Linked DNA regions of Homo sapiens. The protein of the gene in region 2 purifies or fractionates together with the protein of the main gene of each other region. This does not show direct contact. Each region holds a gene or a part of one and is shown on either strand. Other genes may lie near its edges.

Evidence for each region.
Region 1: the proteins of KIF2A (region 2) and RHPN1 purify together in Homo sapiens (affinity purification with mass spectrometry; 2 studies listed by BioGRID and IntAct, with this or other methods). This does not show direct contact.

The regions. Positions count from the first base shown.
Region 1 is NC_000008.11:143,371,862-143,375,775, reverse strand, and holds part of RHPN1 (rhophilin-1), read right to left. Parts: intron 2,045-3,914; exon of another isoform or gene 1,642-2,044; coding exon of another isoform or gene 1,483-1,641; exon of another isoform or gene 1,479-1,482; intron 224-1,478; coding exon 108-223; intron 1-107. UniProt on the Homo sapiens protein: Has no enzymatic activity. May serve as a target for Rho, and interact with some cytoskeletal component upon Rho binding or relay a Rho signal to other molecules.
Region 2 is NC_000005.10:62,350,933-62,354,846, reverse strand, and holds part of KIF2A (kinesin-like protein KIF2A), read right to left. Parts: intron 2,260-3,914; coding exon 2,137-2,259; intron 1,573-2,136; coding exon 1,472-1,572; intron 1-1,471. UniProt on the Homo sapiens protein: Plus end-directed microtubule-dependent motor required for normal brain development. May regulate microtubule dynamics during axonal growth. Required for normal progression through mitosis. Required for normal congress of chromosomes at the metaphase plate.

The DNA.
Region 1 (3,914 bases), on a different chromosome or scaffold from region 2:
CTGTCTCTGTGACCCGGCCATGGGGCAGACATCTGCCTGCGTGGCTGTCCTGCCCCCCTCACCCAGGTGGGCCCTGCTCCCGGGGCCGGGCAGTCTCAAGCACTGACCTGTAGAGGTTCTCAGCGCCCGTCCGCATCTGCAGCTCCTTGTCAATCTGCTGGTGAATCTGGGCCCTGCGGCTCTGCAGCTGGCCGCACTGGATCTGCGTCAGGGAGTCACAGCCCTGCAGGGAGGCCACAGGCGATCACAGCCCGACCCCGTGGCGCCCGCACCAGGCTGCGCCTCGCCAGCCACTGAGAGGAGTGCATCCTGCCCATGGGTAACGGGATGGTCACCATGCGCTGGGGCTGGAGCTGGCCTCACAGGGAGGGGCTGGACAGAACTAGTGTGAACACAGGCCTGGCCAGAGCAGGACAGGAGGCAGTCAATGCAGAAGGACGTGGTCGGTGGGGTAAGCTGCTGACTCGTGATGGGGGTCAGCGGGGGAGGCTGGCACCTGCCAAGGACACCAGAAGCCAGGGTCTCACCAGGCAGCCTGGACAAGTAGGGGCTCCGGGAGCCCTGCAGGAGGCGGCCCACTGCTCCTCACAGCCTTCCTTCTGCGCTTCTGGATTTCATTCTGGATCCCCCCCTTGCCCCTCCCAATTTTTTTCCCATCCAACTCACCCACGCCTCCAAATCATTCCCATGTGGGTTTAGGCGTGGGCTCAAAGGACAGGGTCCCTGAGGCTCTGGGGGCGGCCACTGGCCCCCGATGGTTGGTGCAGAGGCTGCGGTCTGACTTTGGGAATGGTTCTCGAAGCGAACGCACACCCGTGCCCTCCCTATCCACAGAGAAATGACTCTGAGCCTTGCACCCAGACTGCAGCCCCGCGGCCCTGCCCAGCACCAGCCATGGCGAAAGAGTGGGGCGTGCCCAGCGGGGCCCCTTCTGGACTTTGATGGCTCCTGTGTCGTCAGTGGTGCCAGCGTGCTGGAGCTTACATTTCACTCTAGGGAGATCCAGTTTCATGCCTCAGCCCACCCCACCCTTGTGGTGTTGGGGTCCTGCCCACATGATCCTCACGTGTCCCTCCCTCTCACCATGGCCTCCCAACCCCCACTCTTCCCCGTGGCCATGTGGGAATGCCTGGGTCTCCACCCGGACAAGATTATTTGCAGCTACCTGTGGCTGTCCCCTGGGTGGGCTCCCAGGCGTGGGCTGGCTGGCTTGCCTCTCCAGCACCCACTCCTTCCATGCTTTGAGACCCACAGTGCTGCTCAGGGCTCACTGCTCAGGGACACTGACTCCCACCCAGCCCTGGGGCGAGCCTGGTCTGAGTCAGGCGTGGCCAACCTGGCCATTTCTGCCAGTCAGCAGCAAGACAAGGCCTCTGGTGGCTCCTGGGACTGCTTCCCGCCCTTGTCGGGAGACAGGACCTCTTCTTCCCCAGGACCTTGTGGCGTCTGAAGGTGAATCTTGCCACCATGAAACTGACCTACCACTGCATGAAGCTGCGGATTCATGGGGCCAACGTGCACACGCACTGGGTCTTCCCCTCTGTGGACCCGACACCCTCTCCACGCACACACGTCTCTCAGGCCTTCCCGTCTTCCCCGTAAAGAGCTCACACGTGTTTTCCTGGGTTTTCTCCTAGATATCTGGAGAGAGTTCTTTTTGCTAATGTGAACGAGATCTTTGTGTGCATTTTAATTAGTTTATTCCCATTATACAAGAAAGGTTTGATTTCCTAGACAGAAGGCCTGCTCGTCCAGCCCCCCAAAATCACAGCAGCCAGCTGAGCGGGTGACCATCTATTATGGGTGAATTGTGTCCCCACAAAAGACAGGTTCAAGTCCTGACTCCCAGTACCTGTGACTGCAATTTTTCTAGAAATAGGGTCTTTGCAGATATAATGAGTTAAGATGAGGCCACCCTGGAGTAGGGGGTCCTTAATCGCAGTGACAAGGGTCCTTATACGAGGTGGGGAATTTGAACACAGTCACATGGAGGTGGCCATGGGAAGGCAGAGACAGAGACTGGAGGATGAGGCACCGTCCCCTGGAACCCACGCCATCCCCCAAATCCCCGCCCCGTCCCCTGGAACCCGCGCCATCCCCAAACCCCCACACCGTCCCCTGGAACCCACACCATCCCCCAAATCCCCGCCCCGTCCCCTGGAACCCGCGCCATCCCCAAACCCCCACACCGTCCCCTGGAACCCACGCCATCCCCCAAATCCCCGCCCCGTCCCCTGGAACCCACACCATCCCCCAAGCCCCCGCCCCGTCCCCTGGAACCCGCGCCATCCCCAAACCCCCACACCGTCCCCTGGAACCCGCGCCATCCCCAAACCCCCACACCGTCCCCTGGAACCCACGCCATCCCCAAACCCCCACACCGTCCCCTGGAACCCACACCATCCCCCAAGCCCCCGCCCCGTCCCCTGGAACCCGCGCCATCCCCAAACCCCCACACCGTCCCCTGGAACCCACGCCATCCCCAAACCCCCACACCATCCCCTGGAACCCGCGCCATCCCCAAACCCCCACACCGTCCCCTGGAACCCACACCATCCCCCAAGCCCCCGCACCATCCCCTGGAACCCACGCCATCCCCCAAGCCCCTGCACCATCCCCTGGAACCCACGCCATCCCCAAACCCCCACACCGTCCCCTGGAACCCACACCATCCCCCAAGCCCCCGCACCGTCCCCTGGAACCCACGCCATCCCCAAACCCCCGCACCGTCCCCTGGAACCCACGCCATCCCCAAACCCCCACACCATCCCCTGGAACCCGCGCCATCCCCAAACCCCCACACCGTCCCCTGGAACCCGCGCCATCCCCAAACCCCCACACCGTCCCCTGGAACCCACACCATCCCCCAAGCCCCTGCACCATCCCCTGGAACCCACGCCATCCCCCAAACCCCCGCATTGTCCCCCAGACACCTGTGCCATCCCCCAAACCCCTGCGCCATCTGCTGGACACCCACGCCATCCCCCAGACACCTGTACCATCCCCCAAACCCCTGTACTGTCTGCTGGACACCCGCACCATCCCCTGGACACCCAGGCCGGCAGCCTCCTGCTGAGTGCTGGGGTGAGGGAGCCTGACGGAGGTCCCTGAACTGAAGATGAGTTGGCGCTTAGGGGCCGGAGGGAGGGACACAGGCGGCCGGAGGGATGGACACAGGCAGCTGGAGGGAGGGACACAGGCAGCCGGAAGGAGGGTGTGCCGGCCCAGGACCCTGGCCTCCCCCAGCCCAGCCCTGCCCCCGTGGACACCACCCAGCAGCGGACGGGCCGATGTGCACTTGGGAACCCTCACCCTGCTCCCGTTTCTCACTCCCGCCTCCTCCAGAAAAGAAATTCCCTCCAGAGCTGCTTCAGGGACTCGGGCTGGAGAGGCCCACAGGTGGGAGAGGGGCATGGGCGCCTCAGATCTGAGAAGCTCCCTGAACCTGAGGCCCGCCCACCCCCGCCTCCCATCCCTACCTTTCCCACCGGCGCTACCACCTCGAGGGCCTCTGCCCAGTACCTAGGAGACCCCCGTGCCACCCACCGCAGCTACACCCCCTCCCCGCAAAGGCCCCGCTGCAAGGCTCCAGCAGCTTTAAGGGCTCTGGCTGTGCGACGGGCATCAGACACCCAGCCAGGTCCCTGCTCCCCTCCTGGCCCCAGGAGAGCTGCGGGGAGCCTGGCCCCTTGGAGCCCCACAGGCACCTGCTGTGGGCCTGGTCCATTCCTCGGCCTCCCTACCCGCAGTGCTCCCTGCAGGCCAAGTGACTTCCCGGCCTACAGGCGGAGGAGCAGACCCGAGCCGGACCTTTGAGGCTGGGTAGACCTTGGAGGTGGGCGGCCCATGCCCCACTTTCCACACTGGGTTGAAGGTTGAGCCCAGTGGAAGGGGCATAGACACAGGCGTTCAGG
Region 2 (3,914 bases):
TATCCTATAAAATGCAGCAACAGAGAAATAATGCTCATGTTACCACTGGCAAATAACTCTAGAAAAGCTGAAATTCTAGGAAAATTCATTTAATCAGATTCATCTTCTAATTTAATCCAGTGTTTCAGCAAAGTATAAATACAGATTCATTTGTCTTCATTTTCTATTTTTGCTGACCTTCTAAAAAATACTAAGTAATGACAAAACTGCCCCAAATCAACAGAACATAGAACTTAAAGGAATCAGAAGCCAAGATCATTTTAAAAAAACTTTAAAATTCAAATTTTTGAATGCCAACTACAATTTATTTGGCTTCAAAACAGAAATTCAGATTAAGATACAAATAGCAATAGTCAACAGTCTTTCCTAGCCTTGAACAATAAATTATTAATCATTCTAAGAAGTCACATTTTTTTATACATCATATTCAGATTTGTTTTGAATGCAACTAAATTACAAACTGTTACTGAAACTTACTTTCAATTAACCTTCTTCTAGGAAATAATACCACCTATGTCAACTGAGAAGCAGACTGTGAAGTGAGAATTAAGAGATCACAGAGAGATGTGTAAGTATTATGAAGTACCCACAGGAAACACCAGGTGGCATCTATGCTAAGTATTAGTAGATAATATGTTTTATTATTCATTTCAAAACCCAACTGGTCATTCTCAGGTCACTTTCAGATAAAAGCTGATTCATTCAGGTTGGATATAATACTAGGTCCACAATTCCACAACACAACATCTGAACTGGTAGTTTAACATGATTAAGGGCATTTGAACATACTATTAAATAAATAATCTTGATGTTTTATTAGAGAAAAGTAGTTCTGAAAATGTAATAGATGCCATACAAGCACAATGGTGCAGTTATGTATAATAACAAAATGTCTAATATGTAAAGACCTGTAGAAGAGTAAAAGACCAGTTTTCTATGCAATTTTCCCACTGCTATTAAACAGTCTTGCTACCATCTGAAGGGACCCTGAGGGGGACACAATAGAGATCCACTCTTCATATGTGGCATAAATGAAAATCCAAGGAATTTCCCCCCTTTCACTAAGACATGTGAACTTACTAACCATAGAAAAACAATAATAAAATTTATAGTTTAATCATGCACTTTAACTGGGTATTTTTCCCAATGTATTTTTAGGTCTTTTTAAAATAAAAATTCTTAAATGTTACACCATACACATTAGAATTCTGTAACACAATGGCTTTTTCTTAATGGAACAAATTTTAGCGTTAACACATACCAATAAAACATGAAAAGAACAATGCAGTAAAAATGTGTTACGGTAACTTATTTGCACAAGAGTTTATATTATTCCTCAATATCAATTTAAGGAATTCTTAAAATTCTTCAAAAAAAATGCCTTAATTATTTTGTTCACATCAATCACCTTCACTGATATAATCTAATCTCTGGTTGGTACATAAACAAAATATATGTTTATGTTACGAACCTGGGCTCTTTTTTCTCTAAGTTCTTGCTGTTGCAATCTCCTTTTCTCTCGTTTTTCTTGCAGTTTTTCTACTTCTTTCACACAATTAGATTTTCTACGTGCTGAAAAGAAAAGATGAGCTGTAGAAGTATAGTTTTCTTTTTTAGAGTACTAATATTAAACTTTTTTTATGTATAACTTCACCACACACACATAAAAGGTACACAGTGACAAAGCATGCCTATAACAACTACGTGAGCTTTACTTAATGAGCTGCTTTACCAAAACTAAAATAGGACAATGTACAGATGAGAGTCCAGAAAAATGACTCAAACATATTGATACATGTCATCTCTTGGTTTAGAAACACAGACTTTTTAATTCAAAGAATCAAGGAGCCCAACACATTCTTCTGTAACATCTGACAAATTATCATCTGCCCAGAATTTTAAACTCAAACTGAAACATTGCTATAATTTCACAAAAAAATTTTTGCTCCAAAATATACTTTAAAAAACCCAATTAACAGACTAATAAGAAGAAGTTAAATTTTCCACAGTGGTAAAATGAAATCTGCAATCAAGCTTGTATTTAGAGTGTTTACTCTTTGAGGACTTAAAAGGATGACCAAGAGAGAATACATGTATGCCTAAAATGACTAAATCCTTGATACATAATTTACATACAAGGGGGTCCAAATTCCTTTTTTGCAGCTTGAACTGGAGATATATCTGAAACACTACCATTCTGTTGTGCAGAGGAAGACTGTTCAGGAAATTGACTGGGCCGTGCACGTGCTGAACCAACCACTGTAAGTAAAAAAAAAAAATTTTAAATTCAGGATAGAAAATTAGTAAAAGCTAACCTTAGTAAAAGGAAGAGATAGCCCCCAAAACCTGATACTTAAAAGTTACATTAGTAAGTTGCCAGGTTTTCTATTTATGTATGTAAAATATAATATAGTTTATAATAATTCTGTTCAATAAACTGACATAAGCTAAAAGAGGCTTTCAAAGTAATACGTGCAGACTTAGCTTTCACCAATGTAATTTTAGCTACAAAATTCAATCTAAATAATTTACATAAAAGCCAAAGCCAAGCTTGTTTTTTAATAATCCTTTAAAATATATATGTGAAAACAAAATATATATGTATATATAAACCGCTCCACGTCTTAAAACTTTAAACTGCAAAGAAATCCTCCTAAAATATGTGTGTAAAATATAATTTTTTTTTTTTTTTTTGAGATGAAGTCTCGCTCTGTTGCCCAGGTTGGAGTGCAGTGGTGCAATCTCGGCTCACTGTGACCTCCGCCTCCCAGGTTCAAGTGATCTCCTGCCTCAGCCTCCCGAGTAGCTGAGACTACAGGCGCACGCCACTACACCTGGCTCATTTTTGTAATTTTAGTAGAGACGAGGTTTCACCATATTGGTCAGGCTGGCCTCAAACTCTTCACCTCAGGTGATCCACCCACCTCGGCCTCCCAGTGTGCTGGGATTAAAGGCGTGAGCCACCACACCCGGCAAAATATAAATTTTACATGCCTTCTCATTTTTAAAAATGTACACTAATCAAATATATACAGAGAGTAAAAACTTAGCTTCAACCCTCCCTATATTCCAAATCCCACTCTTTGCTCCTCAAATATGCAAATCTTCAGCAGAGAATTTCCCAATGTGGATATTATACAAGTGGAAAAAAGAATATAAAATTAAATATAAATATCAAATTTTAAAAGAAATATAAATTTACATAAGACTCAAAAGATAGTGTTTAAACTGAAGGACTGTCCCTCCACTTCCAATCTCTCATTTAATACTTCTGTCCATCCTGTTCTACCATCCACACACAGAGAAATAATACTGCCAGAAAAGACAATTCTGAACTACTTAACAATAGAAAATAAATTCATTATGCTTTTCATGTCCTGGCTGAAAATATATGGGAGACTTCAGTTAACTACACAATTTTTATGTCTGTTCAACTTCTTTAGCTAGTGAAATCAGCCAACTAATTGACTCTTTCCCCATTCCTTTCTTTCTCATAATATTCTTCTCGAATTTGCAAAATTATTTAGTAAATAAGATGAATTAAAAATTGCATTTCATAATTTCATATTCATCTCATCCATTTTATTTTATTATATTATTTATTTATTTATTTATTGAGACAGGGTCTCACTCTATTGCCCAGGCTGGAATGCAGTGGCACAATCTCGGCTCACTGAACCTCCACCTCCTGGGTTCAAGCGATCCTCCTGCCTCAGCCTCCCGAGTAGCTGAGACTACAGGTATGTGTCACTGCACTTGGCTAGTTTTTGTATTTTTAGTAGAGATGGAGTTTCATCATGTTGGCCAGGCTGGTCTTGAGCTTCTGACCTCAGGTTATCTGCCCGCCTCGGCCTCTCAAAGTGCTGGGATTTCAGGGGTGAGCCACCGTTCCCAGCCATCATCCCATACATTTT